Homo sapiens: one gene and its partners. The protein of the gene in region 1 interacts with the protein of each later gene in a pairwise test. Each region holds a gene or a part of one and is shown in the gene's direction. Other genes may lie near its edges.

What was found.
Region 2: the proteins of SPTLC1 (region 1) and SLFN12 interact in binary tests that used the Homo sapiens proteins (3 or more experiments, as listed by UniProt).
Region 3: the proteins of SPTLC1 (region 1) and ANKRD23 interact in binary tests that used the Homo sapiens proteins (3 or more experiments, as listed by UniProt).
Region 4: the proteins of SPTLC1 (region 1) and PLEKHG7 interact in binary tests that used the Homo sapiens proteins (3 or more experiments, as listed by UniProt).

Annotation. Positions count from the first base shown.
Region 1 is NC_000009.12:92,112,414-92,121,266, reverse strand, and holds the start of SPTLC1 (serine palmitoyltransferase 1), read left to right. Parts: upstream 1-5,853; 5' UTR 5,854-5,896; coding exon 5,897-5,953; intron 5,954-6,200; exon of another isoform or gene 6,201-6,345; intron 6,346-8,704; coding exon 8,705-8,812; intron 8,813-8,853. UniProt on the Homo sapiens protein: Component of the serine palmitoyltransferase multisubunit enzyme (SPT) that catalyzes the initial and rate-limiting step in sphingolipid biosynthesis by condensing L-serine and activated acyl-CoA (most commonly palmitoyl-CoA) to form long-chain bases.
Region 2 is NC_000017.11:35,428,908-35,437,912, reverse strand, and holds the start of SLFN12 (ribonuclease SLFN12), read left to right. Parts: upstream 1-5,412; 5' UTR 5,413-5,725; intron 5,726-7,299; exon of another isoform or gene 7,300-7,442; intron 7,443-9,005. UniProt on the Homo sapiens protein: Ribonuclease which is part of an E2/17beta-estradiol-induced pro-apoptotic signaling pathway.
Region 3 is NC_000002.12:96,837,341-96,842,246, reverse strand, and holds the end of ANKRD23 (ankyrin repeat domain-containing protein 23), read left to right. Parts: intron 1-61; coding exon 62-187; intron 188-1,334; coding exon 1,335-1,460; intron 1,461-1,732; coding exon 1,733-1,831; intron 1,832-1,916; coding exon 1,917-2,015; intron 2,016-2,151; coding exon 2,152-2,250; intron 2,251-2,421; coding exon 2,422-2,520; intron 2,521-2,602; coding exon 2,603-2,698; 3' UTR 2,699-4,335; downstream 4,336-4,906. UniProt on the Homo sapiens protein: May be involved in the energy metabolism. Could be a molecular link between myofibrillar stretch-induced signaling pathways and muscle gene expression.
Region 4 is NC_000012.12:92,705,422-92,713,717, forward strand, and holds part of PLEKHG7 (pleckstrin homology domain-containing family G member 7), read left to right. Parts: intron 1-1,049; coding exon of another isoform or gene 1,050-1,210; coding exon 1,211-1,717; coding exon of another isoform or gene 1,718-1,732; exon of another isoform or gene 1,733-2,228; coding exon 2,229-2,251; coding exon of another isoform or gene 2,252-2,294; exon of another isoform or gene 2,295-3,128; intron 3,129-8,296.

The DNA of each region.
Region 1 (8,853 bases):
GGTTCTTAAACCTTTGGGCGAGGACTGAATTACACCACTGATGTTCCTGGTTCTTCAATTTGCAGATGGCAGATTGTGTGACTTCTCAACTTCCATAATCATGTGAGCCTTTTTTTTTTTTTTTTGAGACAAAGTCTCGCTCTTGTCCCCCAGTCTGGGGTGCAGTGGCATAATCTCGGTGCACTGCAACTTCCGCCTCCCGGGTTCAAGCGATTCTGCTGCCTTAGCCTCCCAAGTAGCTGGGATTACAGGTGCGTACCACCATGCCCAGCTAATTTTTTGTATTTTAAGTAGAGACGGGGTTTCACTATGTTGGCTAGGCTGGTCTCGAACTCCTGACCTCAGGTGATACACCCGCCTCAGCCTCCCAAAGTGCTGGGATTACAGGCATGAGCCACTGCGCCTGGCCAAGCCAATCATTATAATAAATCTCCTCTTATGTAGAGATCTATATATGTTTTATTTATCCTGTTTCCCTGGAGAGCCCTATTATACCCCAGAGCATGTCAATGTGACCTTATTTGGTGGAAGGGTCCTAACAGATGTAATGAAGGATCTCAAGATGAGATCATCCTGAATTATCCAGGTGGGCCCTAAATCTAATGAGAAGTGACTTTATAAGAGACACAGAGGAGAGACACATACAGGAAGAGATGGCCATGAAAAGATTAAGGTAGAAATTACAGTGATGCTGCCACAAGCCAAGAATTCCTGGAGCCACCAGGACCTGGAAGGGGAAAGAATGATTCTCTCCTAGAGCCTTCAGAAAGAGAGTGGCTCTGTCAATACCATGATGTTGGACTTCTGATCTCCAGACTTTGGAGAAAAAAATTTTGTCTGTTTTAAGCCACATAGTTTGTGGCAATTTGTTATGGGAGCCCTAGAAAACTAATACAGATTTTGGTACCAGGAAGTGGGTGCTACTTTAATAAATACCTCAAATTGTGGAAGTGACTTTGGAACTGAGTAATAAATAGAGGTTGGATGGTTTTTGAGGTACTTGAGAGAAAAGTCATAGAATTTCTTGAAGAGACTGTTAGTGGAGTTATGGATTTTAAAGGCAATTCTGGTGAGGGAACAGAAGGAAGTGAAGAGCATGGTAGAGAATTCTTCCATCATCTTAGAAATGTATATCTCATCATGAGCAGAGTGTTAGTAGAAATACAGATGTTAAAAGTGGTTTATGTTGAAGGCTAAGAAGGAAATGAGGAACATGTTACTGGAAACTGAAGGCAAAGTGATCCTTGTGACACAGTGGCAAATAACTTGGATGAATTGTGTCCTTAGGTGGACAGCAGAATTTGTAGGCAATGAACTTGGATATTTAGCTGAGGAGATTTCTAAGCAAAGTGTTGAAGATGCAGCCTGGTTTCTTCATGCTGTTTGTAATGAAACAGAAAAGGAAATAAGCAAATTGAGGAAGGAGCTGTTAAGCAAAAAGAAACAACACTTGATGATTGGGAGCTTCTCGGCCTATTCAGATTGCAAAAGATGCTAAAATTGGGAAACTCACTGTTGGGAAAGTGTACTCTGGATACAGGGCCGAGGGTGTGCCTAGACAATATTGTGCTGAAGAGATCTGCTATACAACTGATGGATCCCTCAATTATCTCACGGATCCAAGGATAGATCCAGCGTTATCCAGGAAAGATCTGTGGGGGTTCTTTTATCTAATGGCATGGATCCCTGTGACATACATGGGAGCCTCAAAAGTTCTTGAGAAGGTTGTACCAGAAGAAACACTGTCAGCTTGGCCTGAAGGGGCTGAGACAGGACAAAGTGAAAGAGAGGCTGTCAGATATGCACAATTCTTCAGGCAAGAAGAGGACTGATAGAACTACTCAGGTATCAGCATGTGCTGCCCTTCAAGAAAAAGGAAGAATCACTATGAGGACAGGGTCATGGGCACAGGGGTAGAGGCTGAATGTTCAAGAGCAGAGACCTACCAAGTTGCCATGAGCAAAGAGGCCTATGAAGCCATGAGCCCAAAAGACACAGCTTCAAGCCACAGAGGATTATTCCCAGACCTTGAAACCAAATGACTTTGCCTTGTTGGATTTCTAACTTGCTTGGGATTGATGACCCTTTTATTCCTTCTAATTTCTCTGCTTTGCAGTGAGATTGTCTATCATATACGTGGCCCACCTTTGTGTTTTCGAAGCAGGTAACTTCTTTTCTAGTCTCACTAGTCAATAGATGCAGAGGAATTTTGCCCTTGCATAGCTCATACCCATAGACTCACCTACACCTGATTATTTATATGTGAATATTTGAGACTCTTTGAATTAATTTTTATGATATTTAGGTGAGAGTTAAGACTTTTGGAGATGTTGAGACGGAATGAATGTATTTTGCACATGAGGCAGATGTGAATTTGGAAGGCCAGAGGTTGGACTATAGTAGGTTAAATGGTAGAGCCCAAAAAGACATGTTAACATTCGAATCAGGGAATAGAACCTGGGAACATGGCCTATTTGGAAAAAGGTTCTTTACAGATGTAACTAAGTTAAGGCTCTCGCTGGAAGAGGCAAAAAAAGTCTTCTCCCCCCAGAGCCTTTGGAGGGAGTATAGCCCTGTCAACACCTTAATTTTGTACATCTGGCCTCCAGAAATGTGACAGAATAAATTTCTGCTGTTTCAAGGCACCCAGTTTGTGATCGTGTGTTACAGCAGCCCTAGGAAACTGATACAGAGGCCAAGCAAAAGTTCCAAATCAAGCAAAGTCCCACGGTGTATTCCTTCCAGTTATCCCAAAATATAACAATCCCAAAACAGTGGCTTAGAACAATAACAATCGTTTATTTTTGCCCACACATTTGGGTGTCATCTGGGCTTAGCTAGGCATACCTCACTCAGGGTCTCTCAGTGGTGGTAACCAGATGGTGGCTGGAACTGGAGCCACCTCGAAGGTGTCGTCCCTCACACGTCTGGTACCTGGACTAGTAAGACTCAAACAGCCAGGGACTGGGGCAGCTGGGGCCCCTTAGTCATCTCTTTCCCCTTCTATGTGGTTCTCACATGATCTTTCTACATGGCAGCTGTATTCTCTTATAGAAGCTGCCACAAAGATATGCCTTTTGATGAGTGTGTAAAAGAATTTGCAGATAGTACCATTGACTCAGAATTGCAGAGAGTATGGTGAAGTTCACCCCTCAGAGTTGTCTTGCTAAGTAGGGCAAGGAAGCTGCAATATTTATATCCCAGCTACCATCAGTAATCCACACTGGTAAGTACTGCCCAGGAGAAGATACATTCTCAGATACTTCCAACTCTCCAGGAGAGCAGGAAACGTGGGAATGGCAGCCTTCAAGGGGGTCCTCTGAGAAATGCAGGCGTGGCTGCTGGAAGGAAAGCACCCGGGGGAGGAAATGCACGCAAGCACAGGACTGTGAGCAGAGCACTGACACGGACTCCATATCGCCAGCTTATGTGGAAATGTAGCACATAGTGTAGCGGCATCATTATCTGGGGTAATACCTGAGGTTCATTGTCCCACAGCCATGGAAAACTAGGACGCGACACACCACAGTGAGGTTAAGAGCAGAAGTTTAATAGGCAAACGAAAGAGAAGAGCTATCTGTGCAGAGAAAGGGGTCCCAGAGAAAATGGGTTGCCAGTTCTGCGGTGAAACGCACAGGGTTTTATAGATGAGCTTGAGGAAGTGGCGTTTGATTTACGTAGGGAATGAAAGACTGGTTGGACCAGGTGTGCCATTTGCATAGTGCATGAAGAAGCTGGCCTTCCCACCCTAATATTTTATTCTGCAGATGGCTTCTCTACCTGACTGATGCCATGTTGCCTGTTCCTTCACTGTACACGTGGTGACAAAGAAAATGGAAGATGGAGTCTCCATATTGAACATACCTGGCTTCCAGGTAGTCTTTTTCTATCGGCACAACTGCCAGCATTCTCCCGTGCACTGCCAGCTTGCTTATCTATGTTTGTAGCTCAATTTTTCAGGCTGCTCTTTGCAAAAAAGAAATAATTTTGGGGTTGCTTTTTGTTCAGAAAGAAGCTCTGCTGAGGACTCTCTTACCTTCACTATCTGCCTAAATAATTTCTTTTTGGCTCCTGTATCAATAGCACTGGTACCATTTCAGAATTCTGGGGAAAGTCAGGGTTACTCAAATAAATGGCACTCAAAAAATTGTTATTCCTTTAGAAAAAAACATAATTAAGTCCCTTAACTCTCATTATCCAAAAATATAGTTTCCAGAGTAAAGAGCTAATTGCAAATAACAACAAACTGCTGCAAGAATGGTTGGAAACCATAGATGTGGTGAAGAAGGCCTTTCTAAGCAATATGCAGATCCAGAGGCAAAAAACAGACTGAAGCACTACATAAAATTTAAAATTAAAGTATGATGAAAGAGCAGAAACAACTAGGCGGCAACTGAGCAAAAATATTTTTCACATATGAAACAGAAAAATATAAGATATTCAGAATGTATAGAGTTCCTACAAATCCATAAGAAGGCAAAAATAACCAATAGAAAAATGGATTAAGAATATGAATTGGCGATTCATACAGTCTATAAATGCCAATAAACATATAAGAAGCTGCACAACCTCATGAGTAACCAGAAGCATCAATAATAAAGGATAGTGAGGTATCATTTTATCTCCATTAAACTGGCAAATTTTTTTAAAAGATTGATAATATCCATCATGGACTAGAGCATAGAAAAACTTCCAAATTATTTTAATTGGTTGAGCCATTTTGGCAGTACTTATCAAAATTAATAACGTGCATAGTCTTCAGATATATCCCATGTTGAAAAAACTGGTCAGAAAAACTCCAACATGCACAGAAAGATATACACACAAGGAACATCGACAGTTATGGCAGCATTATTTGTAATAGGGGAAAGGTGGGAACAACATAAGTATTCACCAATAGGGAAACGTTTACATAAAATGGAACGATGAATATACATAAATTATTCCATGGAAGTCTTCAGCCATTAAATATGAGATATATTAGGAAAAAAATGCTAGAAAAAAAATTTAAAAAAAGTTGTAGAAAAGTCTTGTCCCTATGATCTCAATTATATTTAAGAAATCCAATCCAATTAAGTATGTGCGCGTGCATACTGTTTGCATATGCATTGGAAGGCTCTAAAAGGTTCTTTACCAAACTGCTATATGATTTAATACCTGCAAAGCCTTGGCCTATGTCTGACAAAACAGGAAGTGCTATATGGGTTGGCTATTTTTGTGTATAATTATGCATTTCTTAATGATAATGCATTGCTGGATTACTTATGCTACTAAACGTAAACGTATTGGCCAGGCGCGGTGGCTCACGCCTCTAATCCCAGCACTTTGGGAGGCCGAGGCAGGCGGATCACCTGAGGTCAGGAGTTTGAGACCAGCCTGACCAACATGGAGAAACCCCGTCTCTACTAAAAATACAAAATTAGCCAGGCGTGGTAGCCCACGCCTGTAATCCCGGCTACTCGGGAGGCTGGGGCAGGAGAATCGCTTGAACCCGGGAGGCGGAGGTTGCGGTGAACCGAGATCACGCCATTGCACTACAGCCTGGGCAACAAAAGCGAAACTCCGTCTCAAAAAAAAAAAAATAAAGTAAACGTATTGCAATCATTTTAACTCTCTGCGCCCAGCTGATGACCAAGTGTAAGGCCCGTTCATTACTACTTTCTCCATCCTGAATCCAGCAGGGAGGGTAATAGGACACAAGGTAAACAATTCTTGGAAAAACTGCGGCATCCCACCTGACCCCGTCCAGCCTCCTGTCAACCAGTGCGCAAGTGCGAGTAGGCGGTGCCCAGCGCTCCGCCGCCCCGCCCTCTGCGGAGGTGATAACGACACTGAGCAGCGACGCGCACTTTTGGGACGCGCTTGTGACCCGCCTTCCGGAAGGAAGCGGCTAACTATGGCGACCGCCACGGAGCAGTGGGTTCTGGTGGAGATGGTACAGGCGCTTTACGAGGTGGGCTCCGCGCCATTAGCGGTCCGCGACCACACCCGGGCCCGGGGAGGGTGGGAGGACGCGTGTGGATTTGTGGCCTGAGACCTCGGCGGGACTGGCTCGGTCACGCCCAGACTCGGTGCCTCTTGCTGGAAGGACTGCCGGGAGCTTCTAGTCCCAGCGGTTGAGTGTAGGGAGGAACGGGCGGGGGCGGGGGCTGGGACTGAGGGTCTCGGTTTGAATTCTTATGCTCCGGGTCCCCTGGAAGCTCCGGAAAGGAACACGTGTAAGGGGACGCAGGAGACAGGTCTGCAAAAACCAGAGTTTAGACGGACGATAAAACGGAGTGGTGAAAATGAGTGGAACACCTTCGTCTGGGAAGGTCCTAAGGAAGTCAGCTCTTTGGAACTACGGTACAGTTCGTTGGGGAATAAAATTGTAATAAATTGGAGTTTGTTTTTGTCGAAAAGAAATCAAGTGACTTAGGATTTGTGAATAAAAAATAGTTTGTCATTCTTCTGCGTACATCAGTTTTCTGTCTTATAAAGATACAACTAGTTTAGTCGATTTTTATTTATTTATTTTTGTTTTTTTTTTTTGAGACGGTGTTTCGCACTTGTTGCTCAAGCTGGAGTGCAAGGGCGTGATCTCGGCTCACTACAACCTCCGCCTCCCGGGTTTAAGCGATTCTCCTGCCTCAGCTTCCCAGGTAGCTGAGATTACAGGCATGTGCCACCATGCCCGGCCAATTTTGTATTTTTATTAGAGACGGGGTTTCTGCATGTTGGTCAGGCTGGTCTCGAACTCCCGACCTCAGGTGATCCGCCCGCCTTGGCCTCCCAAAGTGCTGGGATTATAGGCTTGAGCCACTGCACCTGGCCGTAGACTTTTAAAGGAAGAATAGTTAAGAGTTTTTTGAAGCCTAGTTATTTCAGATACATAAGATAATAAGAAACCAGAATGTCAATCTTAGTGTTCATTCATTTAATAACTGAGAGTCCCCGTGCTGTCTTGCAGAGCTATTCATTGGGCACTGAAGAACTTATTTTATTTTATTTTATTTTTTAAAGACAGGGTTTCACTCTGTCGCCCAGGCTAGAGTGCAGTGGTGCGATCAGCTCACTGCTGCGTTGACCTCCCAGACTCAAGCGATCCTCCCACCTCAGACTCCCGAGTAGCTGGGACCACATACCACCATGCCCAACTAATCTTTTTTTTTTTTTAATAGAGACGGGGGCTTGCTGTGTTGCCCAGCCTGGCCTCGAACTCCTGGCCTCAAGTAATCCTCCTGCTTTGGCCTCCCAAAGTGCTGGGATTACAGGCATGAGCTACCACACCCAGCTGCAACTGAATTTTTAATTTAACTTAAATAGCCACGTGTAACTTAGTGACTGTCCACATTGGACCACACAGATCTAGATGCTAGGGATAGTGCGGTGAACAAATAGGCAGAAGTCCCTGTGCTTAAAGAGCTTACATTCATTTCAAGTGAATTTCACTTTACTTTTGATGATTTAATATCACCAAACTTAATATCACCGTCTACTGGTAGGGGTAATGACAGTGTCTTCCATTGCAGGACATACTGGGAATTTTATCTTGAAACAGCAGAGACAGCAGATGTGGCTCTGTCTTATGCTCATGTATTAAGTGATGCCCAGTATTAGGTTAACTGTAGTGACCTAAAATGAGCCACTAAAATTGAATGATCTTTTTTATAAATGATTTTTTAAAGAAATGGATTATTTTCTGTTAAATGTTGTTTGCTCCCTTTTTGAAGACTGACAGTAGTGTAACTTCTCATTCCCCGAAACTGTCCAACAGTGAGACTTGGGAGAACTCCTGTATGTAACATTTCCTGGGAAGGAAAAGAAGTGGTGTTTGTGATTTTTATTAATTCACTAGAGAGAGAGTTTCTCAGCTTTTCTTAGGGTGATTTCTTTTTGGAGTGGGCTCTTAACTAGTGGCTGGGGCAGATGTTTGCTTGCTAGAATCCAACTATTGAGAAAACTAAAAGGGTATTTAGACTTATTCATAAATGAATTGTATTTAGGGGGATGAGCAAATTTTAAAATTCATCATAAACTTCTTACTCCCAAATCCTATGCGTGTTGAATGTAGAATTTGAGTAGTCTTGTATAGTGTACCCAAAAAAGAACCACTGAAATTAAATAATCCGATGGTTAATATTGGGATTCTGTGTTAGATTTTATTTATTTATTTATTTGAGACGGAGTTTTGCTCCTGTTGCCCAGGCTGGAGTGCAGTGGTGTGATCTCGGCTCACCACAACCTCCACCTCCTGGGTTCAAGCGATTCTCCTGCCTCAGCCTCCCAAGTAGCTGGGATTACAGGTATGCGCCACCAGACCCAGCTAATTTTGTATTTTTAATAGAGACAGGGTTTCTCCATGTTGGTCAGGCTGGTCTCAAACTCCCGCCCTCAGGTGATCTGCCCACCTTGGCCTCCCAAAGTGCTGGGATTACAAGTATGAGCCACCACGCCTGGCCTAGATTTTATTTTTTTAATTTTAATTTTTATTCCCAAAGAAGTTTTAAAAGCTAAAAATATTAGGGGTTTTTCATGTGAGGGAGAAATTGCCTGCTATTAGAAATGGGGAAAGGAATGAATAGAAATTAAGGGAGCTTCGAAAGTAAATTGTTAAGAATAGGCTAAAAGTCACAGGAGGCAGTATATGCAGGTGTAGTAAATTTTATGTGCAGGTGTTAGAAGTGTATGTTTCATATCTTACTTGTTTTTGACTCACTCTTAGGCTCCTGCTTACCATCTTATTTTGGAAGGGATTCTGATCCTCTGGATAATCAGACTTCTTTTCTCTAAGACTTACAAATTACAAGAACGATCTGATCTTACAGTCAAGGTACGAAATTAAATCTCTGTTTTAATTATTGGGTATGTGAT
Region 2 (9,005 bases), on another chromosome or scaffold:
GTCATATAGGACCTGCTTCATTAAAGATCTGAAAATCTATCCAGCCATTGTAAAATGAAACAAAATGTTTTGAAAATTTAAATTAGCCTTTTATTTTAGTTCAGACATATAGAAAAGTTGCAAGCATAGTACAGAAAGTTCCTATATACCCCACTTAGTGCCCTCCTTTTTAAAATTTTTTTAAACCTAGCTTATTTCCTTTAAGATTTCTGAGAATTCCAGGAATGCTCACAGATCTGTCCTTGTAGTCTCCTGCCACTTCTTGCTATGGAGTGCTGTACCAAGGTCTCTGCTAGTTTCTAGTTGGCTTGACATAATGACTTTCCTAAACTTCTTCTGCTCTGAATCTCAAGCATGGAAAGCGGTCACATCTTTTGTTTCACGAATTAACAGTCAACACCTGGCCCTACTTTTAACAAAACTTAGTAAAGCCTTGAGCATAGTGAAAGACAAATATTTAAATTATATATTAGCAGGAGGCTGAGGTGGGAGGATCATATGAGGCCAGCCTGGGCAGCATAGCATGACCCCCCCCTCGAGAAGACAACAAAAAATTATCTGGGTGTGGTGGTGTGCTCCTGCAGTCCTAGCTATTCCAGAGGCCGAGGCGAGAGGATCGCTTGATTCCAGGAGTTCAAGGCTGTAGTTAGCGATAATCGTGTCACTGAATCCTAGCCTGGGCAACAGAATAAGACCCCATGTCTAACAAAATAATAATAAAACAATCAAAAGTTTAAAATTAGTTATTAAATGTCAGTGTGCCCAGAGTCCTTTGACCACAGATGATCCTGATGGCCTTCTCTCGCCTTGTCCCTGTGCCTCCTTCTACCATTTTTCTTCCTGAGATTCAAAAGTAAGTAGCGGACAGGGTTCCCATTTACCACTAAATACTTCAGTGGGTGTTTCCTAAAAGGACATTTATAGTACCATCATCAAAATCAGTAAATTAACCCTGATACTATTATCTAATCTGTAGACTTTATTGAATTATATCAGTTGTGCCTCAAGTGTCTTTATGTTTTTTTCTCAAAAGAGAAAAAGTTCTGGTCCAGGATTTGATCTAAGATCATGCATTGTATTGAGCTTTCCTTTCTTTTAAGTCTCATTTAATCTGGAGATGTTAATCTGTCTTTGTCATATCTTTGACACTATTGAAGAGGACTGGCCTATTATTTTGCAGAGTATCTGATTTTGGGTCATTTCATGTGTTCTCATGATTAGATTCAGGTTATGCATTTTTGGCATGAATTCCATAGAAGGGCTGTTACGGTTCTCAGTTCACGGTATTAGAAGGCACTTGATAGTGATTAGTTCCATTCCTGATGATGTTAACTCTGATCATTTGGATAAAGTGGCGTCTGCCAGGTTTCCCTACTGTGCAGTTACAATTTGCTTTTTGTAATTAATAAAGTGTGTGTGTGTGTGTGTGTGGAGGGGGGGTGTTTTTGCTTCTGAACGCATAATATTTGAGATTTTTTTCTAATTAAAAAGTAATTATTCAAAGAGTTCAGAGAACTGATACTGATCACATTCTTTGACCCCACATGCAAATACATTATAAACTAGTAATAAAACGGTAACTAGAAAAATGTTCATATCTTTTGGAATTAAAAAAGTGTTTAACTCGTGGATCAAAGCAGAAATTCTGTAACCATTGTCACAGCAGGTTCTAACAAGCAAGTTTAAGGAGGAGAGAATTTCAGTCCTAGAGAATTTCAGTCTTATTCAAATGCTTTCCTAGAAAGAGGAAACAGTTCCTAACTAATTTCATGAGGCTGGCATAATCTTGATAACAAGTCTGATAGGTAAAGTATGAAAGGAAAATTGCAGGTCACTCAATTATCACTCAAATATCTACATGAAAAATTCTAAACAAAATTTTAGCAAACAAAATCCAACAATTTGTAAAAGTGATAATACACCACGACCAAGGTGGTTCAAGTCAGGAATTCAACGTTGATTTTGGCGTTAAAAAATCAATCATCAGGCCCAGTGAGGTGGCTCACTCCTGTAATCCCAGACTTTCTGGAGGCTGAAGGAGGAAAGATCCTTCAGGCCAGAAGTTTGAGTCTGCACTGAGCTGTGACTGCATCACCGCACTCTAGCCTGGGTGCCAGTTTGAGACCCTGTCTCCAAGAAAAAAAAATTAATCAGTGTAATTCACCACAGATTAAGAGTTCAAAAGAGAAAAATCACATGATCATCTGAATAGAGGAAAAAGCTTTTGATAAAGTTCAACATCCATTCATAATAAGGACTCTCAGCAACTTAGAAGTATAAAAACACTTTTGGAAATCAACAAAGGGAATTTACAGCATGAACAAACAGCAAGCCAGCATGGTGGCTCACACCTGTAATCTCAGCACTTCCAGAGGCCAAGGCAGGAGAATCACTTGAGCCCAGGGGTTAGAGACAAGCCTTGGCAACATAGCAAGATCCTGGCTCTACAAAAAATAAAATAAAATGAAATAAAATTTAAAAATTAGCTGGGTTTGGTGGTGTGTGCCTGTAGTCCCAGCTACTGGGAGGCTGAGGTGAGAGGATCACTGGAGCCCAGGAGGTGAAGGCTGCAGTGGGCTAAAAACAACCAGAACAACCCCCCAACCCCCTCCCCGCAAAACACTATAAAGAATAGCAACACAAGGTTCAATGTAAACTTTGATATGGTGTTTTACCTCTGAGGAGAGGCTTATTGTTAATATTCTTTAGCCGTGTAAGGGGTTCACAGATGTTCATACTTTTGTTCTTTATACCTTATATGTATTCTATAAATATTGTTTCTACTCAATAGTTAATAAAAACATAATTTAAAAGTTCTGTGAATGTTTTTACTCTGCTCACTTTTGAGGGGCCTTTTGGGATATGCATTTTCTATTCCAAGTTGATCTGATATGTCATGCCTGCCACACACATTCCCATGGGAACAACTTCTTAATGTCTTTTGTTTCTGCCTTGGAAGCCATCCTGGTGCTCTGGGAAAATCCCTGCACTAGCATTTTCTTTTTCTTTTCTTTTCTTTTTTTTCTTTTTCTTTTTTTGAGATAGAATCCCTTGCTCTGTCTTTCAGGATGGAGTGCAGCCGTGTGATCTTGGCTCACTGCAACCTCTGCCTCCATCCAAGCGATTCTCATGCCTCAGCGCCCCCACACCCTCCCCAGTCCACCACAGTAGTTGGGACTACCAAGGCGCGCACGACTATGCCCTCTCACCATATTGCCCTGGCTGGTCTCCAACTCCTGAGCTCAGGCAATCCACCCACTTCGGCCTCCCAAAGTGCTGGGATTATAGACGTGAGCCACCGCACCCGGCCTGCGCTAGCTTTTTTTCTTTGTTTCTTTCTCTTTCTTTCTTTCTTTTTCTTTCTCTCTCTCTCTCTTCTTTCTTTTTTTCTTTCCCTCCCTCCCTCCCTTCCTTTCTCTCTTCTCTCCCTTCCTTCCTTCCTTCCTTCCTTCCTTCCTTTCCTTCCTTCCTTCCTCTTTCTTTCTTTCTTTCTTTCTTTCTTTCCCTTCCTTCCTTCCTTCCTTCCTTCCTTCCTTCCTTCCTTCCTTTCTCTCTCTCTCTCTTTCTTTCTTTCTTTCTTCTTTCCTTTTTTTTCCCCGAGACAGAGTTTTGCTCTTGTTGCCCAGGCTGCAGTGCAGTGGCATGATCTCAGCACACTGCAACCTCCGCTTCCCAGGTTCAACTGATTCTCCTGCCTCTGCCTCCCTAGTAGCTGGGATTACAGGGGTCTGCCACCACGCCCGGCTAATTTTTTTTGTATTTTTAGTGGAGACGGGGGTTTCACTACGTTGGCTGGGCTGGTCTCGAACTCTTGACTTCAGGTGATCCACCCACCTCGGCCTCCCAAAGTCCTGGAATTATGGGCATGAGCCACTGCTCCCAGCCGGCACTAGCATTTTCTAAGCCAATGACTGAAGAATAGTTTTTTAACTTCGGTGAGACTGTATCCATAGAGCTGGCGTCTGGATCAGATGAGAAGAAGAAAAGCGCAGCTATGTGCTTTCAATATATACGTTATTTAATGTGAATAGGTACTCTTCCTAGGTACCTTAAGATTTTAGAATAGGCAGTAGGCAGTTAATGCAGTCCAGAGTGGGGTAGGTGGAGCTTGCGGAGAAGGAGCAACTCAGACTTGCACATTCCCCTGTGATGAGTCATCGTGGCCTGTGTGCATTTCAAAAGCTATGTACTGAGACACCAATTCTTAGACAAGTTAGCAGGAAAAACATGTATTACCATAATTATCATAATAAGGGGGCTAAAGGAAAGCAAAGTGGCAGGAGGACTGTATCCGGCCAGACTAGCCTTTGGAGCATCCCAATAAAGGAATCTCCCAAATGGCCCCAAGATGCTCCCTACACTGCCAGGGGTAGGTATTTGAATCTGTCTGTCCTGGAGCAATCCGCTCCTTGCACCTTTGTCCTCTCCTGTCCATCCACAGCTGCCCTGGCCTGGTTCCTGGGGGCAACCGTGCTTTTAAGCAAGGGGGCAGCAGTGCTGCTCTGGGAATGCGAGTACAGCTGGAAAGGTTGAGTCACCCCTTTAGGGGCATGGTAAGAATGCCTGGTATTTCTTCAATTTTGATGAACCAAAATAGTGACAATTGCCCAAAGGCGCAGAGTCGATAATAAAGAGTGCGGACACTTCCGGAGCGCCAGCTGCCCAATAGAAATGCAGGCCACGCTGGGGAAGTGTGGAGCCGCAGCCCAGGATGGGGAGGGCCGGAAAACAGAAAAGGATTCGCGTTCTTTTTACTCTGTGGAGAGTGAGCCCGCGGACTGTAGCCTGGGCCTCGCCAAGTTCCTTTGTTCTTTGTTTTCTTTAAATTACCTTTTTTCTTTTTGTCTTAAAAAATACACATGGGTGAAAAAGAAACGAGAGCTCCCTAGAGATCACTCAGAGCTGTTTTCGTGGGTTTTTAACTTCCAGTTGCTCAAGGGTCCACGCTGGCATCTGGGGTGTGCTCGCACCTGCGAAGAATCCAGCTTCTAGGGAGCACCGCGAGCTGGTAAGTTGGTCCTGCTCCATCGCTAAACCTTCCAGCCTTAGTTTTTCATTTCTGGGGAGTCTGCTGGCTCGGGAGGAGGTGGGGCACTGGTAACACAACCCCACCACTCCCGGGAAGATCCCCGCACCCCCATCCCGGTCTGCTTTCTCTCCCTTCTGAAGCAGGAGAATAAGGGTCTGGAGGAAAATCCCAACTTTCCACAAACTTCCTTTGTAGCCCCTCCTTTTCTACATGGCAGATGAAAAACTGAAAATACCTCTGATTGGTCCCCTCCCGCAACCAATCAGACTGGTCTCCAGGGCCAAGTCTTCATGTGCATAGGAATGTAACTTTGTAACTTCGCTTTCTGCGTCCAATCAGATGTTTTCATAGGGCATAACTTTGTAACTTCACTTCAGCCTCCCATTGATCGCTTTCTGCAACCATTCAGACTGATCTCGGGCTCCTATTTCATTTACATTGTGTGCACACCAAGTAACCAGTGGGAAAACTTTAGAGGGTACTTAAACCCCAGAAAATTCTGAAACCGGGCTCTTGAGCCGCTATCCTCGGGCCTGCTCCCACCCTGTGGAGTGCACTTTCGTTTTCAATAAATCTCTGCTTTTGTTGCTTCATTCTTTCCTTGCTTTGTTTGTGTGTTTGTCCAGTTCTTTGTTCAACACGCCAAGAACCTGGACACTCTTCACTGGTAACATATTTTGGCAAGCCAACCAGGAGGTAAGCCCAAAGTCTGGGATTTATTTTTCTCCTTTCCCTTTTCCTTTCTGCTCCATACAGGTAAATCTCTCTCTTTCTCTTTTCCTTTCCAACGTGGGATCCTTGGTGGGTAGCGCCTAGACACGGAGGCGACTGCAGGTTTCTGGCCGGGGGCTACTCTCCAGTGCTGCCTTGAAGGCCAAGGAGTGAATGGGGATAGTTGCCCTGCCCAGAAGCGGGAAGGGCTCTTTTCTGTCTTTTCTGGTTGTGGTCCCTGATCCCTATGTGTGACGCAGCTTCTCCAGGGCGAACTCACACGTGTTTCAGGTGACTTAAACCTTCTTTCCTTATGTTAAATTCTTCCCTTCCCCTACTCTACTGGCTAAGGTTAAAAGAAACCCACCTAGCCTCCATTTCATATCATTAAAGTTCATGACTATCACTCTAGTGGAATGGGAACCATGGGAAAGCATGGCCTTATCAAATTATAAGGATGCTAGAAGTCAAGGCCTTCATCCAGAGACAAAAGGAAAGCTCACAGTAGGCCATCCCCTCTGGAGGGAAAACATGTAAAGTGGCACTGGTGACCACCTAAGGTCAGAGACGTCTGACGCTCTAAGATTGGACCCTAAAGGGGGATGCTCTGGAGGATCCTTTGGACCTCAGCCTCTCCAAGGGGGTTCCTTTGGTAGAGGTTCTTAGGCCTAGTACTAAGCCCTCCTTAGAATTTTCTCTTCCGGTTGCAGTAGTGTTTGGCCTCAATATTGTTTGGAATCTGGAGTTTGCTGTTGAATGGTAAAGTGGGATGGAGTTGCATGTATGCAGGCTCTTGTGCTGCTGTTCTAAGCAGGGTTGTGTCGGGTTAAAGTGTGATGTTCTCCTTTGGTGCTGTTTGGCCTCAGCGTTCTTTGAAGTGCGAGGAAGTTTGACCTTTAAAAATCAAACTGCCATGGAAACCGCTGACTTATAAATTGCTAAAGTTGTTTATAACCAATGTTTGGTTTCTCAAATCCATATTCCTGGGAAGACAATCAAAGCTTCAGGTACATTTGGCTACCCGATGGGCCATTTAAACATTTACAAAGGGATTTTATTCAATGTCACTTTCAATGCATGTTTTCTTGTTGTATAAAAGCTTTTCCCATGATTATGCTACAGTGTATTTTCACCAGGTAAAGAAAGCTTTTTATGGTTCACTGAGAACAATCAACCCCTTCACAACCTAGAACCCATAGGATAGATGTTCTCAGAACATCTACTGTAAAGGCCATAGTTACACAACAGACTTTAAATTCTTTTGTGAAAGTTATGATAGAATTGGCTGAACAGAGAAGTATCTGTGCAGCTGCTGGCACTTAGAGTCTATGGAGAAATACATTAAATGAAGATTAAGAGATTCAGTTGTAGGGGATTAATGAGGAGATTGTTTACTTAAGTTGGTAGATTCTTTATTTAGTTCATTATTTGATCTATTTAATTTTAACTGGTTTGGTTTATGGGAACCCTGGGCAAGGAGCATCCTCCAAACTCTTGGTATTATCCTCCCAATAGTCATCATAATAATAGGCTCCCTGGTGCACTGTATTCTCTCAAAGGTTTTCGATGTTTGCATGCAGCCATCTCTAGAATGTCAAATGGTCTCTCTTCAACTGGAATGATGAGAAGTGAAACAAATATGCGACCATGAGGACACTGTAACCTATGGATGGTGTGCTGAGACTGGAAACCCAAAATGATGGTAACTGAGAGCGGCGCTAAGGCCTTACGTTTTGGTTACATTCTCACCTAAGTGAGAACCTGAACAAAAAGGGGGAATTTTAAAAAACAAAATTGTGAAAGGCCAGTGTTTTGGACTGAGCTCATGGCCCCAACAGACCAAACCAAACCAAAATGGAGTTGCTCATTCTAAGACTTTAAGGAAACACATAGATCCTAGAACAGACCAAGTTTTTGTTTTTCTCCTGCAAACAGAATGTTTCAGTGAGCAGGACACCCTCCACCGGTAACACTTTCCTGTCTCTGTAGCAACTTCTAATAAACTGCAGGCTGTTGAGGACTTCAGAATGGTGGACTTGGAAGCTATAGGTCGGGTGGAACTTTTGCTCCTGCATGGGCTGGGGAGCAGCCCAGAAAATTTAAAGCATTACCAGAAAATTTAAAGAGCTGTGGGGCCAGTGAGCCAGGGATCTGCAGTGTTCAAGCAGAGCTAGAGAGGCAGGGAGGGCAGAGTGCTCTATGGTCAGGCCAGGCTTGGTGGGTGTCCAGACCTCCCAGGGTTATCCATCCTCCTGGAGTCCTGAACATGCAGGGAGTTGGGGAATAGGTTCTTTAGGTGAAATGCGACCAGGCACTGATGAACTGCATTGCTAGATCCTAAAAGAAAAACCAAGCACCCTCATGCCCTGCTGGTTTATTATCTAGAAGGCGGGAAGGATGAGAGCAGTGCTGTCCTGAACTAAATGCAAAGTGACATCCTAGGAGGGCAAAGAGTGTTGCATGATTTTTGTTTCCCAGGAGGTAGCTCTTACAACTTCTGTCCCACCCTGTGGGCAGTTCCTACTAACCTGCTGTTCTGACATAACTCTAAGGAGATCTGAATGCTGTCTCCTTTCCCATTAAAGATAGCCAACAACAAAGCCTAAATAGTGAGTTCAGGTCTGATAGAATTTCCCCTATAGTCAAAAGTATAAAGGATTTCAGTGGAAACATCTAACCTGTAAACCTAGACCCAAGGTTTAAGGGAGGCCAGTAAGTTTTAGGCCCTAGGGATTTGGTAAGCTCAATCCCCAGCTCATTTTTTAAGGGTTTTGTCCCAGATGTATGCTTGAAGGCAGTGATTTTCAACTATGGAAAGTTTTACACAGCTGCAGATGTTGGACTGGGGTGACCGGGATCCCAGGCTAGTTCACAAGCGCTGGGTCCTCTATAAGGTGGCTCAACTGCAGCTCCCATGGGTTCCAAGTTTCTCAGTGGTATGAGCACCCTCCTTAATCAATCTGAGGGTGAGATGTGATTTCTGTCCCCTTCTGTGTATGGTGGGTTAGGCAAAAAAGTTTACACAGAGCCCAGCCTGATGTAGACAGTGCAGAAAGGTGGGCTAAGAGGAAAGGGGACAAGACTCTAGTTAGAGAGGCTGCAAAAAAGAATCGGGGAGCAGAGCAGAGGCTGCTTGGTGAGGCATTACCAGAAAATTGTAGGGCTGGGGCTGTGCGCCTGGGTAGAAGTGGAACTGATTCTCCTGCAGCCTTTGTGGGTAGAGATGGAGAATCTCTTCTGTCTGGTCAACAGGGAAGGTGGACTT
Region 3 (4,906 bases), on another chromosome or scaffold:
AGGGCAGAGAGATCTCTTGACCAGCGGCTGATGGCTGGCATGGTCTTGTCTTCTGCCCCAGCTTGAAAGATTTAACAGTACCAGATTTAATCTGGATAACCTGGCTGACTTGGAAAACTTGGTTCAAAGACGGAAAAAGCGACTGAGACACAGAGTCCCCCCCAGGAAACCTGAGCCCCTGGTTAAGGTGAGTGGGAGGTCGGGGTTAGGGCAGTGCACACACCAGGGCTCCAGTTCCAGAGGAAGGGCTTGGGGCAGAGTGGGCACTGCAGGCCAGGACCACACAGCCAGTGCCTGGGGAGCCCATTAAATCCACTCCAGAGCCCCCGCGGATGTGTCCGCCAGGGCTGCCATAACAAAGTCCCACAGCCTGGACAGCCTCAACAGCAGGCATGTGTCACCTCGCTGTCCTGGGGGCTGGAAGGCTAACAGGAAGGTGTTGGCGAGGCTGGTTCCCTCTGAGGGTGGTGAGGGAGAATCCCTTCATGCCTCTCCGGCTTCTGGTGGATGCTGGTGATCTTTGGCGTTCCTTGGCTTGTAGATGTATCACCCAACTATTGCCTTCATGTTTGCTGGGCGTTCTGCCTGTGTGCATGCCTGTGTCCATGTGTCTCCCCCAACTTTTTTTTTTTTTTTTTTTTTTTTTTTGAGACGGAGTCTCGCTCTGTTGCCCAGGCTGGAGAGCAGTGGCACGATCTCGGATTACTGCAAGCTCTGCCTCCCGGGTTCATGCCATTCTCCTGCCTCAGCCTCCCGAGTAGCTGGGACCACAGGCACCCGCCACCACGCCCGGCTAATTTTTTTTTGTATTTTTAGTAGAGATGGGGTTTCACCGTGTTAGCCAGGATGGTCTCAATCTCCTGTCCTTGTGGTCTGCCCGCCTCAGCCTCCCAAAGTGCTGGGATTACAGGCATGAGCCACCGCATCCGGCCCACGTGTCCCCTTTCATAAGGACATCAGTCACATTGGATTAGAGCCCACTTTAACACAAGTCATATTGGTGAGGGGCCCACCATACGCCGGTGTGACCTCATCTTAACTAATTACATCCTCAGTGACTCTGTTTCCAAATAAGGTCACATTCTGAGGTACCTGGGGTTAGTACTTCATACGAATCTTGGGGAGATACAAGTCAATCCATAACACACACGCTCACACACACACAGTCTATTCAATCTCCTGGCGTGGGATTAGAATAAGAAACTGCATTAGTACGAGCCAGCAGTGTTCCTTGGTGGGCTGCATGGGACCCGTGGGCCAGACTGGTGAAGCTGTGACATCTTGGGCACCTGCGGCCTTCGGGAGTGATTTGGTCTTGTCTTCAACTGAACCAGCCGCAGTCCCAGGCCCAGGTGGAGCCTGTGGGCCTGGAGATGTTCCTGAAGGCAGCTGCTGAGAACCAGGAGTACCTGATTGACAAGTACTTGACAGACGGAGGGGACCCCAATGCCCATGACAAGGTAGCACAGGTTGGGTGAGTCGGCTGGCAGCAGCTGCAGCTGCAGGAGCGCTGCCTTCAGTGTGTTCAAGTCCTGGCCTAGGAGGCTGCAGGGATTTTCACTCTTATGGGCATGAATCCAGTGGCACCTGCAGACGGAGGAGAGGGAGCGGCCCATCGCGTGGTGGGGGAAGTGGCAATTCCATTCAGGGACCTGGCCCTGGGAAGGGGACCGCGTGGGGTCTCTAGGGGTGGCTGCACTCCCTCTGCCTAATCTTCCATCTCTGCCCTCAGCTCCACCGCACCGCCTTGCACTGGGCCTGTCTGAAGGGTCACAGCCAGCTGGTGAACAAGCTGCTGGTGGCAGGTGCCACAGTGGACGCGCGAGACTTGGTGAGGATGGGGAAAGGCCCAGCCTCTGGTCGACGCCCAGCTTCACATCCCAGCAGCTGAGTGCTTGGGTGCTTTTGTTTTGCAGCTGGACAGGACACCTGTGTTCTGGGCCTGCCGCGGAGGACATCTGGTCATCCTCAAACAGCTGCTTAACCAGGGAGCCCGGGTCAATGCCCGGGACAAGGTGAGGGGCACGGTGCTTTGGGGGCCTGTCGGGAACACGGGAGCAGACGCTGTTCCTGGAGAAGAGAGCACGTAGTCCCATGGGTTAGGGAGGCCTCACCAATCCAGACCCAGCACTGACCCCCACTTGCTCTCAGATCGGGAGCACCCCCCTGCACGTGGCAGTGCGCACCCGGCACCCCGACTGCCTGGAGCACCTCATCGAGTGTGGCGCCCACCTGAACGCACAGGATAAGGTAAGGCAGGCGCTTGGTCTTTTCCGGCTCGGACAGCTCCAGAGGAGCAGGGACTGAGGAGCCCCAGCCAGGACCAGAGGTGCTGTCTGCTCGGTGACAGCAGCCCTGACCTTCCTGCATGAGGAGGGCAGCACGCGGAGGCAGAAGCTTGACTGCCTGCGTTCTCAGCAGGAAGGGGACACGGCTCTGCACGAGGCCGTGCGGCACGGCAGCTACAAAGCCATGAAGCTACTGCTGCTCTATGGGGCCGAGCTGGGGGTGCGGAACGCGGTGAGTGTGGGCGCAGCCCTGGCTCCTGACCCGAGGGCGGGTGGAGCGCCTGCAAGGGACTGACCCACACCGTTGCTCCCAGGCCTCCGTGACCCCGGTGCAGCTGGCTCGAGACTGGCAGCGCGGCATCCGGGAGGCCCTGCAGGCCCACGTGGCGCATCCCCGCACCCGGTGCTGACCGCAGCACCGCCCCCCGCCGCGCCTTTCGCACTGCCACCATTCCATCCTGTGCCCCGCCCCCGCGTCTGCACCTCTGTGGTTCCTGCCCTCAGCCCTGGTTCCTCCCTCTCTGGCCTGTGCCGCCTCAGCAGCCCTGGCAGAACTGAAGAGCGGCACCGGGCCCAGCAGGCAAAGAGAGAGGCCTCCCTGGCTTCGAGTGTCAGGGGAGCCGCGTTCCCTCCCAGGGCTGGAGCAGAGGACCACAAGGCAGCAGAAAGCGCGGGTCCAGATGAGGGCCAGGAAGGGGAGGAGAGTGAGGGCCAAGAACGAGCCTTAAGGGAGCAGTCCCAAGCTGGAGCCACCCAGGGCTGGGTCTGGGAGTCCTCAGTGTCCACTTGTCCCAGGTTAGGGGGCTTGCCTTGCTCTCTCCAGGGCCAGTCTGTGTGTGTGGGGACTCAGCCCGTGGCCGGCAGATGCCATCCAGGATGTACAAGGTGCAGCCAAGGCAGGCCATGCAGGGGCCGGGCCTGTCTGCAGCTGGTGGATGCCTGTGGGCATGGCTTTCTCTGGGGACCCCATTCCTGTCAGTAGCAACCCTGGCAGTGTCCGGAGCGGCTCTAGACAACTTTGGTCATAGGAACTCTGGAGGTGGGTTCTGGTCATCTGAGGTGGCTACTCAACAGGTTTGAGGCCCCACAGCAACAGAAGTCCAGGACCCACTAGGTTGCCTCAGAAGCCCTAAGACTGATGAGCTGGAGCGCGCATTTGAGAGAAGCCTCGCACCCACTGTGTACTGGCCCCGCTCAGGCCGGCCTGGCACACCGTTGCCTGCTGGCGGCTCTCATGGGGAAGCGCCTGGGCACTGGGGATTGCTTGTGGCCCACTCAACTCTTGGGGCAGTGGCCCGTAACCCTAGTTTGCCTGAGGCCCTTATGTCCCCTTATGTTCCTGGTACTGGAGCTTGAGCTCTTGCCTGGAACGCTGCAGCTGCACCCACCCTGCTTGATCCCACCTGGGAGGCCAGGACACTGAGGAGCTCTGAACCCAGCCCACAGGGAAGCAGAGGAAGGTGAGCCCCCGCCGCCCCCCAGCCCTTCCCATCCCTTCCCTGCTCCCTGGTGGTCTAAGGACCCAAGCTCCCTAGACTTCCTCTTCCACCGTCTGTACGTTTCAAATTACACTGGTGTAGGCCTGTACTGCTGGTGGGGCTGGGCCCCTAAACGCCAGAAAGTGAATCTTAAGAAGCTCTGCCCTAAACTGAGAACCACATGCTGAGGGAAGGGCTGAAAGGTGAAGGCTCAGCCTCCCTCACATGGGTCCTGGGTTACATTAGGTACCGGGCTGATTGATAGGCATTTGGCCATGGTTCCTTTTCGTCTACCTTTGGGGGCCTTCTCAGGCCCAGAACAAGGCTGTTGTTACTATGTGGAAAAGCTGACCAGTGCTGCACACTAGGGGCACACACCTTTCCATGAGCAGCTCCTGCCCTGTGGCGACAGCCAGCGTGCACCCAGACGCTGGTGCCATGGCGAAGCAGGCGTTCAAGACCATGGAGAAGACAACTCCTCATCTAGAAAATGAGGACACCTCAGTGACAAACACACCTTTTTATACCAATCAGTATCCTCTGTTCATTAAAACTGGCTATCCATTACAGCCTAGCCGTCTTTCCTGGGCCGAGAGGAGCCCATGCTTCAGTCACCAGGGACTGTCTGATAGGGCCCACGCCTGTTAGCCATGCCGGCCGACAGCAAGATAGGCCGAGTGCAGAGTGGGCGGGATGCGGGGTCCTGGCACTAGGCTTTTGTGCTTAAGGCACCTCTGCTCACTGACGACAAGGTCAAAGAGCAGTGGTTCTCCACCTCAGCTGCTTATCAGAATCACCAGGAAGGTTTAAAAAGTCCTGATGTCCAGACCCTAAGTCAGAAGCCCTGAGGGGAGGATCCAGGTATTCTCATGCAGAGGCCATGCTTGTCTATGTGGGAAATCCTAGGAATCTACAGAAAGCAGACAACTAGGGAGTCCAGCAAAATCTCGGGTGCAAGATAAACACACAAAAACCTGTTTCTACCTCCTAGAAATGAACATGTAGACACAAAAGTTAAAAATATGTACTGTTTACAATTGCTGAAAAAGGGAAATACTTCGGTTTAAATCTAACAAAATATGCAAGGACTTGTATGCTGAAAATTATAAAACGTGATGAAATCAAAGATTTAAATAGACA
Region 4 (8,296 bases), on another chromosome or scaffold:
ATAAGAAGTAAATTATTAGCCATTCTTAAATTTTGGCTATCCAAATGTGGGCAAAGGGTTTCAGATTGCTGAGTTCTGCTTTAGAATGATAAACTTACTAAAACTATTATTGATGATCTTGGAATATACGGTCAACTACTAATGTTCCATCCACAAACAATCCACGCACAGTCTGAAGCCACCTCCCATGCCATCTGCGGCCAGGGAAGATGGGTCTCTCGCCTGTCCCACAGTCCCACACCTGGTCTGCAAATCATCAAGCATCAACTCTCATGCCATAAGGGATGTGTAAGGATTGATGTTTTCCCACACATACCTTCTTCATGTGGGAAAGTACAGAATAACGAAACTGCAATAAGCCACTCCCATGAATCAAGCTGTGAAATGGAAGGGTCAGCTTTTCTTGAGCATGAGAAGAGATAATTCTGCATGCATAGATTGCAAAAAACACCTCCAATCATGAACAGTAGGGTACCTGGTGATGTCTGGGTTTTTCTTTTCAAACCTGCAAGTCCTTTTTCCAAAATGTAAAGATTGATAGAATCTAAGATAAAAGACGTTGTCAGATACTTTACATCAGTTACCTTCAAAGCCTGTCTCATTCTGTAATTTAAACCTTGAGGGAAGGAGGCTTGTTTTCCTTGTTCTTGCATCCCCAGAATGCACCACAATATGTACATACATACATAAATGTAGATGATAAGGAGGATTTAATGTATATTTGATTCTCTTAAAATGGAATAATCACAAGGGGAGGAGCTATGTGGTTTCCAGGAAGTACCTTAAGTTACCAAAGTTTTTAAAGGCTTTTTTGTTTGAACCTAGAAGGAATATTAAGTAGACAGTAAACAGACTTCAATACGCTATTTAGATGAGAAGGCTGGAGTCACGTATATTAATTATCTTCTGAACGTAAAGGATGCTGATGTGAACTGAGCTCTATTGCCTATGAAGAATTAGAAGTTTTCCTTTGAAATTTTAGACCTTTTTTCTCACTGCAGTCTCCCTCATTTGCTACATATTTCACAGTCTGCTCTTCCTCACTACAGATGCAATAACCTGCTTGACATTCTCCTCTGGAAAAGGAAAAGAACTACGAGAGGAAGCATGGCACTTGGATGCAGAAATTGAGCACCCTCCATGTGATCCAGAGAACAGCAACTCATACGTCTTCTGGAACCTTCTACCAACAGTAGAACCTCTTAGCTTTATGGAGAAAACAGAGTCATTCTGTCCAGAGGTGCCACCCCAAGACTGTGGAGCCTCTCCTCGGCCCTCGCTGAGGAGCCTGCCAAAGAACCAGGGGAGTCTCCTCCAGTTTGACCGGCAAGCCCCAGGCCGCATCTCCACCTCGCCCACTTTGAGGAGATTAAGGACCCGTGGCTGTGGGACAAGGCAGGATGCCTGGCAGGTGACCACCTGGGGAAGCTGGGGAGCTCCTGTGGGCTTCCCATGTTACCTTTCGAAGAGCCTGCCAGGAAGCCCAAAGGATTCTTCACACTTGCTGTCACCCTTGAGACTCCACTCAAGATTGACCTCTGAACCTGAAAGGGCCCTGAATGCAGCTGACTCACTGGAGCCCCAAACCCGGCCCACTGACAAGTATCTCCCTCCTGAGCTTCAGCCTGTCAATGAAGGGTCCCTTCACCAGGCCTCTCTTCGGCAGCAAGAAGGCCACTTCCTGCCCAGCCCCACCCTACGACACCCTAGTCCTCAGGTAACACAGCTCTAAGCCTCCGGCCTCTCAGTTGCTGAACCACAAAGCAAAATAGATCTCAGAGTTGCTTAGTTCCCCCAAGGGCCAGTAGATCCTAAAAAGGAGACAGCACAGGAAGTCACACTGAGGGGACACATTCTCTTTAGGAAGCATTGGCTCTTAAGTGAAAGGAGGGCAGCAATCTGGGGAGGAAAGAAAATGATCTCGCTCACTTTCTTCTGTCCTTAGAGGCACTTTGAGAAAGGATGCACCAAGGCCAGGCTTACCGATGGTCTGTCAGGTACCCGAGAGCAATGGGGGCCCTCTTGCAAATGCACACTATTTAAAGACAACGTCGTGTCACTGATTTAAAAGGGGAGAAAGAGCCAGTTATTCAAATTTCCAATCCCACCAAAATGTAAAACATGTTTTAACTAGGAGGGCTCATTGTTTCTCCTTTCAACATGTTTGCTTTGGAGTTTGGGATGGGTTTGAGCAAGACTAAAACATATGTTCTTAAAATTTATTTCAGGGAGAAGAATTGCACCCATCCAGGTGTGTATGCATTTATTTTCTCCGGTGCTATGACATCTGTTGACTATTTACTATTAGATTTTTATTTCTGTCCTGACATAACAAAGCTGACGGTGTGTTAACCAGTGCACTTTGTTTTATAGCACTCAAGTCACTCTTCGCATTTATAGGTGCACGAGTTTTCATTTCAAGAGTCTCCCTTTAAGAGCACAGCATTTGGGGGCAGGATACAATGCCATATGCAGTCATAGTTTTCATTTTGAATTGTCAATGTCTTGGCCCTGTGGCTTAATTAACATCCACTTAGTAATAGGTTTTGTCTGGTAGAGAAAATAGAAAGGCCAGAGATATGCAACAGCTTTTCAAAGAAAAATTTGGAGGATAAAAGAAAGGAACAAGATGTCCTGGTTAAATCTAGGGTGACCTTTAAAATAACCTGTTATGACAGACTGTGCCCTTATCCAGAATGAAGTAGACTGTGTCATTTCCAAAACCAGCTCTGAACTTTCAGCACGGCCCCCTGGTTGTAGCAATGGATCTGCCATCTCTGACAGGGATGAAGAGTTTCTGCAGCAGCAAGGGAAAGATCCATGCCCAATTTTATCTTCCTGACTTGTGGGATTGGCAGGAAAGCCCTCATTTCATTTGAAAAGTCACAGAGGATTTTTTTGGAGAAATAGCTGCTGTTTTATTACTGGACCTCAATCCTCAAGCAATAGTTTGATATTCATAGCAGTAAGGATAACATCCATGTACACATTCTTTGTTGATTTTAATCCTTGTTGGCCTAATTGTACCAACAAAGGTAGAAGATACTTACCAAGCCATAGGGAAATGCAAATTGTTATGTCTGTGTATCAGCTAGCTGTTGCTAGATAAAAAACCACTTAAAGTAACAGACAGTTATTGTTTCTTATAAATCTCTGTGTTCCCTGGGGGTGACTTGGTCTAGGCTGGGTTTAGCTGAGCAGTTCCACTCCAAATGTTCCTTATCCTGCTCATGGGATCAAAGGGCTCCCATGGGTCCATGGGATCAATTAAGCAGATTCTTTATACAGTGAAGGGAGAGGTTCAAGAGGACAAGTAGAAACATGCAAGGCCTCTTGGAGCCTGGGCTCTGAATCTGGTCTAATTTTATTGACCAAAGCAAGTCACTCAGTTGAACTCAGCGTCAGGGAATTACATGTTACCAACAGTGGGAGAGCATTGAAATGTTACATGGCAAAGTGTATGGATGTAAGGAATGGGGAAGAGTGGGGCTGTTAATGTAAATCTTCCATACATGTGAAACAGAATAAAGCTCTCAGATGAGATCTAGTTCAGTTGTGTCAAAGAAAGTGGAAAAGGGTAGTCTTAGAAAAAAAAATTATGTTTAGAGTCGAATTATTTTAATAAGATTTTGAGAAATTTTATTCCTTACCCTAAGAGCAGTGTGAAACCATTTGATGAATTGATATGATCAGATGGATGTCAGATATACCTGGGATTTAGATGCAAGTAGACTTGAGTCAAATAATTCGAATGTTCAGGTATGAGAAGTTGTTAAGTTAGATTATGATGAAGGCAGTGGGGTTAAAAAGAAGTATCTCAATGCAAGAGATATTTAGGAGATACAATCCCCCAGACTTTGTGAATGGTAGCCTATCAGGGTGAGGGAAAGGAATCTTCAAGAATGACCTCCAAGCTTCTGGCTTGTTCAACTGGGTAACCAAGGTGTCCATTCACTGACCTAGATAAACTTGGGTAAAGAAATTAAATATGAGTGGTTAGAGTGTAGGTCTTGTGTTCAGGTTTGGACATGTTGAGTTTGAGGAACTATGAAACATCTAAGTGGAGATTTTGAGTAAATAATTGGTTAGAGAAGGCACCAGGGGTGGATGTACTATATGTATATTTGTGAGTCTTAAATCAAGGAATGTTTCCTAGAGCAGGTAAAGTCTGGGTCCAGCTCTGATTATTAGATGGAGCCGGCAGACATAAAGGCAGATCAATGGGATGCATGAAGCCATTTGCAAAAAAATGATGTGAAGGTAATTTCCATTGCCATATGAAATCTGTGAGGAAATAACAAAAATAGTCTTGGTAAATTTTAAAAGAACAGCTAGGTCAGGCTGGGCACAATGGCTCATGCCTATAATCCCAGCACTGTGGAAGGGCCAGGCAGGCGGATCACTTGAGGTCAGGAGTTTGAGATCAGCCTGGCCAACATAGTGAAACCTCATCTCTACTAAAAATATTTTTTCTTTAAATAAGCTGGGTGTGGTGGTGGGCACCTATAACTCCCTTCTTAGCCTGTTGACTTAAAGGTAGGAGGAGCCCAAAGTGTCCAGGTGGCAATTTTAACTTCAGTTTAATGGAAACTTTCTTGCGTCTCCTGGTGGCAGTGTTCCTCCCTCTGGAACTAAGACCTCTAGGCCAGCAGAACGTAATGTCACAGGAACAGGAGGCAAAAATTTGGCTAGTGGATCACTAGGGGTGATGATGAGTAGTGCCACTTTGACTTCCACCCCTTGATTCCTGAACCTGTGAATCCTGGCTATGGGAGAAACAGTACCATATATTGGATGCTGATTCAGAGCATTACATGGCCATCCAGAAAACTTTGTCCCAGCCCTGCAAAGTATTGTCACCTAGTTGGCACTACGATTGTGACTTCAAAAGGCCATTCCACCATTCTGTCAATCTAGCTGCTTCAGGATAATGGGGAACATGGTAAGACCAGTGAATTCCATGAGCATGAACCCACTGTCGCACTGCTTTGTCCATAAAGTGAGTGCCTTGGTCAGAGGCAATGCTGTGTGGAATACCATGATGGTGGATAAGGCATTCCATGAGCCCACAGATGGTAGTTTTGCCAGAAGCACTGCATACAGGATAGGCAAACCCATATTCGGAGTAAGTATCTATCCCAGTGAGGACAAACCTCTGCCCTTTTCATGATGGAAGAAGTTCAGTATAATCAACCTGCCACCAGGTAGCTGTCTGATCACCCCAAGGAATGGTGCCATATCGAGGGCTCAGTGTTGATCTATGCTGCTGGCAAACTGGGCACTCAGAAGTGGCTGTAGCCAGGTCAGCCTTGGTGAGTGGAAGTCCACTTTACTGAGCTTATGAGTAACCTCCATCCCTACCACCATGGCTACTTTGTTCATGGGCCCATCGGGCAATGACAGGGGCAGCTGGGGAAAGAGGCTGAGTGGTGTCCACAGAACGGGTCATCCTATCCACTTGATTATTAAAATCCTCCTCTGCTGAGGTCACCCATTCATGAGCACCTACGTGGGGTACAAATATCTTCACAGTTTTTGACCACTCAGAGAGGTCTATCCACATACCCCTTCCCCAAATTTCTTTGTCACCAATTTTCCAATCATACTTCTTCCAAGCCCCTGACCATCCAGCCAATCCATTGGCTGCAGCCCATAAATCAGTATATAATCGCACATCTGGCCATTTCTCCCTCCATGCAAAGTACACAACCAGGTGTACTCCTCGAAGTTCTGCCCACTGGGAAGATTTCCTTTCACCGTTATCCTTCAGGGATGTCCCAGAAAAGGCTTGTAGTGCTACAGCTGTCCACTTTTGGGTGGTGCCTGCATATTGTGCAGAATAATCTGTGAATCAGACCCTAGTCTTCTCTTCCTCTGTCAGTTGGTCATAGGGAACTCCCCATGAGGCCATTGGTGCAGACTGGGGGAGAGAAGGCAGGGTGGCAGGAGTGGAGACCATGAGCATTTGAGCCACTTCCTCATATAACCTACTTGTGCCTTCAGGACCCGCTTGAGCCCAATCACATATATACCACTTCCATTTGATGATGAAATGCTGCTATGCATGACCCACTTTATGGCTAGATGGGTCAGAAAGCACCCAGTTCATGATAGGCAGTTCAGGTCGCATGGTGACTTGATGACCCATAGTCAAATGTTCAGTTTCCACCAAAGCCCAGTAACAGGCCAAGAGCTGTCTCTCAAAAGGAGAGTAGTTATCTGCAGAAGATGGCAGGGTCTTGCTCCAAAATCCTAGAGGTCTCTGCTGTGATTCACCTATAGGGGACTGCCAAAGGCTCCAAACAGCATCTCTGTCTGCCACTGACACCTTAAGCACCATTGGATCTGCTGGGTCATATGGCCCAAGTGGCAGAGCAGCTTGCACAGCAGCCTGGACCTGTTGCAGAGCCTTCTGTTCTGGACCCCACTCAAAACTGGCCACCTTTCAGGTCACTCGATAAATGGGCCAGAGTAACACACCCAAATGAGGAATGTGTTGCCTCCAAAATCCAAATAGGCCTACTAGGCATTGTACCTCTTTCTTGGTTTGAGGAGGGGCCAAATGTAGCAACTTATCTTTCACTTTAGAAGGAATATCTTGAAAGGTCCCACACCACTGGACCCCTAGAAATTTTACTGAGGTGGAAGTTTTCTGAATTTTAATCAAATTTATGTCCCATCCTCTGGCATGCAAATGTGTCACCAATAAGTCCAATGTATTTGCTACTTCTTGCTCACTGGATCCAATCAGCATAATGTCATCAGTGTAATGGACCAGTGTGATATCTTGCGGAGGCGAAAAGCGATCAAGGTCTCTCCGAATAAGATTATGACACAAAGCTAGAGAGTTGATATACCCCTGAGGCAGGACAGTAATGGTATATTGCTGGCCTTGCTAGCTGAAGGCAAATTGCTTCTGGTGGGCCTTATGGACAAGAATGGAGAAAAAGGCATTCGCCAAGTCACTGGCTGCATACCGGTACCAGGAGATGTGTTCATTGGCTCAAGCAATGAAACCACATCTGGTACAGCAGCTGCAATTGGAGTCACCACTTGGTTAAGCTTACAATAATTCACTGTCATTCTCCAAGATCCATTTGTCTTCTGCACAGGCCAAATGGGAGAGTTGAACAGGGATGTGGTGGGAATCACCACCCCTGCGTCTTTCGAGTCCTTGATGGTAGCATTAATTTCCACAATCCCTCCAGGGATGCGATTTTTTTTTATTTACTATTTTTCTAGCTAGAGGTAGCTCTAAATGGCTTCCATTTTGCCTTTCCCTCCGTAATAGCCCTCACCCTACCAGTCAGGAAGCCAATGTGGGGGTTCTGCCAGCTGCTAAGTATGTCTATGCCAATTATATACTCTGGTCCTGGAAAAATGACCACAAGATGAGTCTGGGGACCCACTGGACTCACTGTAAGTCAGACCTGAGCTAAAACTCCATTAATTACCTGACCTCCATAAGCCCCTACTTTAACTGGAGGACCACAATGATGTTTTGGGTTCCCTGGAATCAACCTCAGCTCAAAGCCAGTGTCCAGTAGTCCCCAAAATGTCTGATCATTTCCCTTTCCCCAGTACACAGTTACCTTGGTAAAAGGCCAGAGGTCTCCATAGGGAAGGATGGGAAAAAGATTCACGGCATAGTGAATTGAGATCGCACCACTGCACTCCAGCCTGGACGGCAGAGCAAGGCTGCATATCAAAAAAAGATTCACTACATAAATTGTCAGTAATGTAGTGGGGTCCTTCCTCAAGGGGACCTGGCCTTCCCTTTATTCAAGGGGTTCTGGGTTTGTAAACTGGCTCAAGTCTGGAAATTGATTGAGGGGCCGTGATTCTGTTTTTACAATTCAAATTAGTCTTGTCCATTCAACCTAGAAGTTTTCTGCTTATGAAAATTAGGTAGGAATGTAGTAGGCTTCCTATCAATTTTAATTCTAGGAACACTGTAATTAATTAGCCAGTGCCAGCACTCTACAGGAGTCAGTCTATTCTGATTGCCGCTTTGCCTCTTCCGTCCATTATGGTAGCTACACCCACCTTGCCTTTGATGGTTGAGTGCTGCCACCTGGCCTCTGCCACCTTGGGATCCAATTATTCCCATTGTATTTAAATTTTGTAGTTGAGTGACTGCAGTTCCCACTGTTAGATCTGACATACAGAGAAGAGCAATTACAGGGCTCTTCAAAAATGCAGGTCCTGCCCTCACAAATCTATTTCACAAGGCATTGGTCAAGGGTGTATCTTCTGACCCTCTCTACTGGGATGAGTAGGTCTAAAGTGACTAATC